3 separate regions of the Homo sapiens genome follow, and all the other regions are reported to be linked to region 2. The links are microRNA targets in miRTarBase. Many come from high-throughput screens and were not tested one by one. Region 2 holds a microRNA gene; each other region holds the end of a gene's coding sequence.

Region 1 (3,170 bases), not on the chromosome of region 2:
ATTTCTGTTAACTTTTTTAGTTTGTGTTCTTTTAATAAACACACTTACATAGTTACAATTTTGTAAGAATAAAAACCGATTACCTCATGCCAAGCATGCCGAGAATTTGCAGAGTCTCAATACCCAATACTATAGTTTTCAAGACACACAAAATTTTTAGGCAAAACAGCACCTTGAAACAATTTAATAATGTATTACATTACAGTAGCATCACAGAAGCAGTCAATAATGCCACTTTAGACAAAAATCAGTATTTCCATTATGCATTCTGTGTATAAGAATTCATAAATCGGTAAAAGTCATTCTAAGAAAACTTGGCAAATACAGCTTTGGACTGGAATTGGCATTTCTTTGTCTACTTTTCCTTCCCCTAGATTCTTTGTTTTAAACTACAGTATTCATATTTTAAAATGTTTTAAATTATTTTAAGACGTTAATATAGCAGTTACATTTTTGAATAGTTATTTGAAAGTGACTGTAAGATAAAGTTTTAGAGAATCTATTATGGATAGGGTTGATTTACATTTTCACATTTTCTAAAAATCAGCTTTGGTTTTAGAACTGATTGTTTTTCATTTTGGGAAAACCTACCAGGTTTAATCAATTACTTTAAAAATAATTATCATATTTTGCAGTCTTTAAATAGGTGTTTTGATTCTTTACTCCCTAGAGAAATTCAAATTTATTCAGTTGAAGTCACATTTTAAAATTCTATGTTCCTGCTGAACTCTAACCTTCTAATGTTGCCTTCTAAGCAAATTAAAGGCTGCCTTATACTGAATGAGGTAGAGAACAAATACTTGGCTGAATGAGGTACTGCAAAAGACTGCATGCACTTTGAAGAAAGACTTGAGTTATTGTCATAGGATTTCCATTCTCTTTAGCTTTTTCTTAAACATATGACAAAATACCTACACAAAGAGTCGTATTTGAATTAATATAGTATATTTATTTTTCAGACTGACATTCATCTTAAATATGCCAGTATGTGATTTAATCCACAGGTACCTGATGAACACATTATTGTCAGATTGGTTACAGTTGCTAAACGCTATCTGAAGGTCATTCCTATTCATTTATACGTGTCAGGGTAAAAGTGAAGCGATTTGAACTATAAAAATACCTTTGAAATAATTTATCAATGTATTAGATAAGCTCAGTTTCAGAATGATAAACAAAAACTGTTAGACCAAATAACGTGGCTAATTAACAGTGGTACGATTTCTAGCCCGAGGGTTTAAAATGGAGTTAAAGTAAGTGTCTTTAAACTGAACTCAAAGAATGCAAAAGCGGCAAGTTCAGACAAGGCAAGAACAGGACCTTTAGTCCATTTTAAGCCATAAATATTACACAAAATATGCCTCTAACTGAAACTGAGAGGTATAAAAACATATTTCACTCTTCGTAAAGAACTTTGTGAGGAAATATAACTCTGTGATTGTATAGACACTTTCCTCATGACACTTTGACAGTCACAAACAGTAGATTGCGCTGCAGTTTGTAAACATTTTACGTTGCATAAACTGCTCCTTGATTTTCAAATGTAGTATAATACTGTCTACTAAAACTCCTTTTTGTTTCAACTAAGTACTCTCACATATATTAGTTTATAATAATGTTTGTTATTATTTTTAAAGTGTTCTCCATTCAAGGAAAAGAAGTAAATTCCTATGTCAGATGGTTGAAGACTAGCTATTAGCCAGAGAGGTCTAGATGGTAAAATCCATCTTCTAGCCTCAAATAAGCTCCATGAACACAGAGGAATGCCAGGTGTCACACAGCTTTCCTTCACTCGAATTCATTCTTGACTAGAGCCTGTATATGCCTGTTCCAGGGGCATTTAAACTCTTAAAGGATTTCTTCTGATCTTTACTAAATACATTAAGGAGAACGCCAACCAGTGCCCTTTTGTGTACTGGGACATGTAGTCATGTGATTAAAACAGGGAACATGAACGCTGACTTTAAAATGTATTGTAGATATAAATGCTCTCAGCTAGAAAAGGTTTTCCACATCCACAGTCATGATGGGAGCCTTTCATTCCTCAGAAATAATCCCTTTTCAGGTCATCAAAAAAGAGTACAACTGCCACAGCTCATGAGGCAGTATCTTCATGAGCCCAGAGCACATACAAATCCTAAGGGAACTACCGTAGTACAGCGCTCATTCTTGGCACCGGAACAAATGAAACATATTCTATCCTGCACACACCTGCCAAAGCAGGCCACTTTCCTCTTCTGGGAGATTTAAAAACCTCCCCAAAATGTTATTACTCCCATCCCCAATACACAGAAAAAGGGGGAAAGGCTGTTTCCAGTGCTCCACCTTTAAACAACTGTAAATGTCAGTACTCACAGTGGCATATTACAAAGTAATAGACCGCGCACTTGAGGGCAAACTGCATATTGAGCTAATGAAGAGCTCACTGTGATTAGGATTCGATCAAACATAACAGCAGAACATAAGGAAATTTTATCTGAATTCCGTAATGAATATACAGGCTGTACTAACATTCAAAAAGCATGGCAGCCTATCCCAAACCAGCAAGAACAGTTGTGTGCATACAGTGGGTCTTTGTGTGTTTGAACTCCCACCACATAAGGGCAAACTCGATATGCATGCTAACGTCCTATAATTATCAAATTAAAAAAATGCTAAAAGATGCCAGAGTGAACATGAGAGAAACACCCACTCTCATTTAACTTTTTACAAATAAATTTAAATTATAAATTAGAAACACAAATAAATTTAAACTATAAATTAGAAACACAAATAAATTTAAACTATAAATTAGAAACACAAATAAATTTAAACTATAAATTAGAAACACAAATAAACATAAGTGGCTCTAACATTCAAATGAAGTAAATGAATTGTGTAGGATATTAACCCCTTAAATGTTTTGTTTTTTTTTTTCAATTCCTTGACCCGCTCTTAGATGATGGTGATGTTTAGCTCCCTGTTCTCCGCAGCCCGAAAAGAATGGCATGCAGCCTCTCCTGCTCCTCCTGCCGCCTCTCCTGTACCAACAGCTTCTCCACTCAAGCCTGGGTGCTCCTGGGGAGTCCTGCATTAGAGGAAGCAGCTGCTGGATCTGCTGTGCAGTGGGGTTGTCATGGGGGAGAACCCTCCCTGTCCTCTCCCGGTGCAGCCTCCATGCTATCAGTGAG
Region 2 (3,170 bases):
AAATTTAGCTGGGCATGGTGGTGCGTGCCTGTGGTCCCAACTGCTTGGGAGGCTGAGGTGGGTGGATTGCTTGAGCCCAGGAGTCTGAGGCTGCAGTGAGTCATGATGACACCACTTCACTCCAGCCTGGATAACAGAGCAAGACCCTGTCTCTTAAAACAAAACAAAACTAAAGCTGGAAGCCATCTTGGAGATGGCCTAGGCCCAGAAGAGCCCGTAGGGAGCCCCAGAAGGAACATGTAGCCGTGTGCTCCCTGCCACCCCAGGAGCCATGTTCCACCGAGCTGGGGCAGATGCCTGGCTCTCTAACAAATAGGCGGCTGTTCGGTAGTTAAAACTTGGACGTGCTACAGACACAGCAGTCCTGGAACTTGGCTGAAGGTGGCCAGACATGGCTGGCTGTTCCTCTTTTCCTGCTCCAAAAGTGTTTGCTTCCCGAGCTGCCGCAGTCGGAACTCCCAGGCTCCGGGAGGAGCTGATGGCAGTGGCATACGGCGCTCTGTCGTGATCAGTGCAGCAATCTGTTCAGTGGCTTTTAGGTGTTTTGGAAAACAAAATAGCCATTGGTTCACTACCTTTCCTTTGGCTCTGACCAGGGAGAAAAGCTGGTAGTGAGCTCAGACCCTGCAGTGGGATGGGGTGCTCTCTGCTAGGTGCTGACCCCGCACAGGTATGGGGTGCTGTCTGCCAGGTGCTGACCCCGCAGAGGTATGGGGTGCTCTCTGCTAGGTGCTGACCCCGCAGAGGTATGGGGTGCTGTCTGCCAGGTGCTGGCGGGCCTGTTTTCCACATGGATTTCTGCCCTTTGTGTTCCAGATCCGTTCTTCCCCCTCTCCTTCCTGGTCAACAGCTGGCTCCCAGGGATGCTGGATGACCTCTTTCAGTCCATGTTCCTGTGCGCCCTGCTGCTCTTCTGGCTGTGCGTGTACCACGGGATTCGTGTCCAGGTGAGCCGGAGCCGCCCTCACTGCCGGGGGAGGTTCCAGACTGTGTCCTCCCTCCCGAACTCTGAGGACAGCCCAGAAAGGTGAATTTATCCATGGAAGCCTGTCTGCAGGCCCATACTCAATGGAAAAATCACGTTATGTACAATTACCAATTTGGTTTTCTTTATTTCTTACTTCTTATTTTTTTCTTTTTAGGGAGAAAGAAAGTGTTTAACTTTCTATTTGCCTAAATTCTTCATTGTTGGACTATTGTGGTTGGCTTCTGTTACGCTAGGAATATGGCAAACGTGAGTAATTCTATTATGTGTGAAACTTCAGTCATGAAAAGCATTTGACAAAAGTGGAAAGGCCAGGCCAGGCGTAGTGGCTCACGCCTGTAATCCCAGCACTTTGACAGGCTGAGGCAGGCAAGTCACTTGAGCTCAGGAGTTCAAGACCAGCCTGGGCAACATGGTGACACCCCGTCTCTACCAAAAATACAAAAATTAGCTGGCCGTGGTGGCGCATGCCTGTAGTCCCAGCTCCCTGGGAGGCTGAGGTGGGAGGATCGCTTGAGCCTGCGAGGCACAGGTTGCAATGAGCCGAGATTGCACCACTGCACTCCAGCCTGGGCAACAGAGTGAGACCTTGTCTCAAAAAAAAAAAAAAAGGTGAAAAGGCTTACAATCAAACTGTGTTCTGTGAACTCATCCAGAAAAGAATCAGCTTTCAGTTTATCTAACTTGGTGACACAGTAGACACCCCTTATTTTTGGGGGATTTGTTCCCAGACCCCCATTAACTATCTGCGGTCTTGGATAGTACTGATCCTTATATATAGCTGTTTATACCCTATGTATACCCATACTATGTTTTTCTTTTTTTTTTAGACGAATAGGAGGGTGACTTTAGTCACAGGCTGCTCAAAAACACAGGCTGCAGAGAACAGGATTTGGATTGGCAAACTCATTGTACCCTCATGTCACACTCCTTCTTTGCTCCTACCTTGGAGCATTTTGGCTGGGAGGCAAAACCCCAATGCTATTACAGGCAGTCCCCTTACCCCTCATTCCACACCCACTACCCAGAAACTGAAGCCTCATGACCCGCTTTGAGGAAAAATATCCCGTCCTGGTTTTCTGTGTTCCAGTCGGCCTTCCAAACACATCCTCCCCCTGGGACACAGACTTCAGGCCAGCCTGTATTACGTCAGGTTGCTAGTTGCCCTTTTCTGGGAGACTCCCAATGACTGTGCCCTCTCTGCTTAAAGACTGTAGAGGCAACTGGTGTTCTCACGCAAAGTGGCCAGGGTGTGGGAGACTAGATCTTTGACTCTGGCAGTCTCCAGGACTGTATGCAAGGCCAGGCCCAGGTGGGCATACTGGCAAAGGCTTTTGGGAACCCGGCTAGGGAGGAAGTAGGGAGCATCCGTTTCCATGATGATTCTCTCCAGTGGGATCTGCCTCAGCACTTCCCGGGCTTCTCAGGTGGAGGAGTACGTCAGGACTGCCATGAGGCCCACCGACGTTGGGAAAGTACTTCAGCAGGGGTTCCATGGCCAGGTAGCTGCAGTGAAGCAATGCTTGTGTATCTTGTAGTCAGAGAACACACATTTTCTCATGGTGTCCAGCAGATCCTCGTCAGCTTGCTGGCAGAGGATCACCAAAGCTTCTCTAGAGACGCAGCCAGCTCAAGCTGTCTCTTAAATACCTTGTGATGTTCTGGGACAGGCATGGTGCACTTGTAGGAGTAATTGAAGCCTGTTTCTCCAAATGCCACAGTCGTGGGGTGCCTTAAGGCTTGTAAAAGATTTCTTTCCTGACTCTTATTGTAGTAACATGGAAAATGAGGGTGACAGCCAAAGGCCCCCCAGACCAGATTCTCTTTCAACAGCTCCCCCCGTAGGCAATTTGTCAGGGTGAGGGTGGCAGAGGTCAGAGATGCAACCCTGAAATTCCTTAGAGAAGGAGCTGCTGTAAATTCTTCTGAACTTAGTCAAGGTCCCTTTGAAAGACAACTTGGAATACAGCATATCCAAATGACAGTGGGTATCAGTGAAGCCCTGCTCTAGGCTTGGCTCCCAGTGGCTCTTTGGCAGGGAGCTGGATGTGTGTCCTCCACAAGGACACAGAGGCATCTCCTCTTGGAATGTTCTTCTTTGCTTCACCTCTTTTCCTCCCGAGCTTCTGGAGAAGTGAAATGAGTGAGAATTCTGGGAGCTGCCTTCCTCTGAGGCCTCCACATC
Region 3 (3,169 bases), not on the chromosome of region 2:
TCCCTCTGCCTCTCAGGTTGAAGCGATTCCCTTGCCTCAGCCTCCTGAGTAGCTGAGACTACCGATGTGTGCCACGACGCCCAGCTAATTTTTGTATTTTTAGTAGAGGGAGGGTTTCACCATGTTGGCCAGGCTGGTCTCAAAACACCTGACCTCAAGTGATCCGCCCGCCTCGGCCTCCCAAAGTGCTGGGATTACAGGTGTGAGCCACCGTGTCCGGCCTGAAAACTTATTTTCTAAAGGGAAATTAATCTTAACTGTTTATTGATTTGGAGATTGTATCTCATTGGTAAAGAACAGTTACTTCCTTCACAGTCTAAAGACAAATTGTGTATTATTCTGTGTTAAATAGCATGGCACTGTTGATCAGGAGTTTACTTCTGTCTCATTACAATGTGAACTTGTTGCCCATAAAATAATTCTCTTAAGATTGATACATCCTGACTATGTACTAACATGTCATGTCAGTTTATTATTTTAAATAGAATGTGCTAATAACATATCATTTTAAGGTTTATGTGAACTATTTCTCTGAAAGAATAAAAATTTGTCACTGTATAATTGAACATATATTGCACTTTGTATTCACAGGTTTGGGGGAGGCAGATCAGACATGTAAACTATGTACTTCTTGCTAATTGAAATTATTTCTACATTAAACAGACTTGTAGAATTTACTTATACATGCTTGACTTTTTAATTATCTTTTTTCTCCTTTTCTTAAAGATGATACTTGTTGATGCCACTGTTATCATCCTCCTAGCAGAAGATAGTCCTACTGAGAAAATGAGCACTTTGATCATTCAGTCTTTGAACTTTAACCTTTGACTGGAAGTGACCTATAGGCAATGAAGACTACTTCCTTTTACTGCATTTTTACTCGTGTGCATTCTGGGCGCATGTTGATCGCTGGTTCAGTCCAGGCAACTGACATGCTTTTATTAGTCATACAGTATTAATGCAGGTGTCAGGAAATGTCAAATATAATTCCATTTTTTATTTTTATTTTTTTAAGCTTTTGGAAAAGCTCCAGGTCCTCATGTATTGTGCAATAACAATGACTTCCTTGGCGGTTTTGGTACGTTCATTGCCGGCAATGGGCGTTGTAACAGGAAAAGTTTTCATTAACTCCTGCCATTCAATGATTAATGCATGATAGGGCCTATGAAATGAACTTACTGGTTATAGTGGGAATATAAATAAAGTGAGGGATCCAACATTACTTTAAAAGTCACCCCAACTGTTTATATTTGGATTCTATGCACTGTGATCCTAAGGTTAACAGCATGAATTAACATGCGTCTTTAAAGGACTGTAATGAAAGATCATTGCATATTTATTGAATTGTTTATATCTACTGTCAAGTTGTTTTGACATGGAAGATTTTCAAGTAACATTGGCAGAGAGGTACAGTATGTTATCCCTATGGTGAAAATAAATTAATTTGTTGTATATAGTTCCTCAATCTCTGAAGTAAAGGTATGAGTAATATAGGGTATGAATGGTTTAATCAAGGCTTTATTTTGGAAGTAAGAAAAATGGCAGTGATGATTAAATTGCTGCAGTCCATAATTTGGGCTTGTTATTTGTACATTAAAGATTTTTTCCAAGTAAGTTACACTCTGTTAACTTCCTGCTAGCCATCAGCATGAGCCCTACTGCCTAAACACTATTTCATTTATTTATGTTTGGAAACCCCGTAAACATTTTTGTTTGCAATCTTGTTTCTTTTGTTATAAGTCAAGTTTGAATGTTACAATACTTTTATTGAAACTTTTGTTAAGTTTTTTCTTGTAAATTTTCTTTACTTGTGAGTATCATCTTGTCCTTTAATCCTGTACCCTAAAATAAGAAATACATTTTTGACAGAGGCTTAATGTTTTAACAAAAGAGTGTGGACATTTTTATTTTAAAATTTAGGCAAAAGTCACTATCAAATGGTTGCTTATTTGTCTCACACAGCCATATAGTTTTTCCTGGAGGGTTTTGTTTTGTTGTTGTTGAAAAGACTTTGCTTACAGCTAGATGAAACTTTCTATAGAAAAAAAAAATTGTTGAAAGGTCCAGTTCTCAGTACCATGTGAGTTAATGATACTACAACTAAGTTCTTTTTAAAAAGTGATTAATGTATTTTATAAATTACCTTTTCACATATGCAAAATCTGTTTCTACTACAATGTTATTTTTACTAATGCCTTATTGTTGCACTCTTTTTGAAATATCCTGCAGTGAATATATGAATCAATTTGGGCTTAAAACTGAAAGCCAGTTGGCTGAAAGGTTTGAAATACGTACCCCAGTAAAACCATTCAATCAATAATTGGTAAATAATATTTTAAAATTGTTTTTAATCTGTATAGATGACATTTTGTAGCTTTGTACATGTTGTTAATTAAGGGCATATAATTTTACACTCAAAGTATAATTGCTGAACTCAGGGGTGGGTAGACTTCAAAAATATGTCTGCTATAGAAATAACTTGAAAAAAAAAATTAAAACCGTGGCCAGCCACCAAATTGTGGACACTGTTTATATACTGCTAGTTAACAATTACCACTTTTAAAAAATTATAACCGTTTTTGTTCTATCTTGACTAGATAAATTCTCACAATGATCTCTGTCAGTTTTATTAGTTGGCCTGTTTAACCAAGACAGAAAGTCTTTGAATTACTCATAGTTTTAAACTGCTTTTAATATGAAAATTGCAGCTGTAAATTATGTATTTTCATATTTTGCGTAACTGCTCTACACTACTGTTTGACTTGATCTTCTTCTGGGGGTTAGGGAGAAATCTGTCTCCATATTGCTGGTTCTCTTACCAAAATGCTTTTATAAAGAAATGACCGGTGACATTTATTCACCAAAGGAATTAATATACTGAGTCAAAGATTAACAATGCTATACTATAGAGTAATAGGTCATATATAGCCTCAATTGAGTTTTTTATGACAATATTTTAACATACCTCTCTCTCTACATATAAATACCATAAAGTAAACTAAAATGACACAGAGGAAAGTAGAGGAAAATGAAATAATTTCGGTACATCTTATGGTTTAAAGAGTAGAAAATAAGATGAAATATCCTAAAATATAGGAGCACAGACATTTAAAATTCATAATCAGGCTAACAACACTCTCTTGAATTTAGGAATCATTGAAAACTCCTT

What was found. Region 2 holds the annotated microRNA hsa-miR-7161-5p (UAAAGACUGUAGAGGCAACUGGU, at 2,191-2,213, shown strand). A microRNA usually pairs through its seed, bases 2 to 8, with sites in the 3' UTR of a target mRNA and lowers its output. Matches are read on the target gene's strand: a 7mer-m8 pairs with bases 2 to 8, a 7mer-A1 pairs with bases 2 to 7 and ends in A, and an 8mer does both.
Region 1: miRTarBase lists GOLGA6L4 as a target of hsa-miR-7161-5p. Seed matches in the 3' UTR shown: 7mer-m8 at 844-850 and 7mer-m8 at 822-828.
Region 3: the mRNA of UBE2W is a reported target of hsa-miR-7161-5p. Seed matches in the 3' UTR shown: 7mer-m8 at 806-812, 7mer-A1 at 1,301-1,307 and 7mer-m8 at 2,658-2,664.

Annotation. Positions count from the first base shown.
Region 1 is chr15:84,242,357-84,245,526 of GRCh38, reverse strand. It overlaps GOLGA6L4 (golgin A6 family like 4), which reads right to left. Exons shown (of 9, transcript NM_001267536.3): 9 at 169-3,067. The coding sequence ends at 2,935. Among named protein-coding and RNA genes, the nearest start is that of GOLGA6L4, 8.2 kb to the right of the region's middle.
Region 2 is chr6:158,607,517-158,610,686 of GRCh38, forward strand. It overlaps MIR7161 (microRNA 7161), which reads left to right and starts at 2,191; the gene lies at 2,191-2,274. It overlaps TMEM181 (transmembrane protein 181), which reads left to right. Exons shown (of 17, transcript NM_001376852.1): 9 at 817-947; 10 at 1,143-1,234. It also overlaps the pseudogene TATDN2P2. RefSeq lists an enhancer at 1,803-2,304.
Region 3 is chr8:73,791,673-73,794,841 of GRCh38, reverse strand. UBE2W (ubiquitin conjugating enzyme E2 W) reads left to right here. Exons shown (of 6, transcript NM_018299.6): 6 at 727-3,169. The coding sequence ends at 740. Among named protein-coding and RNA genes, the nearest start is that of STAU2, 46 kb to the right of the region's middle.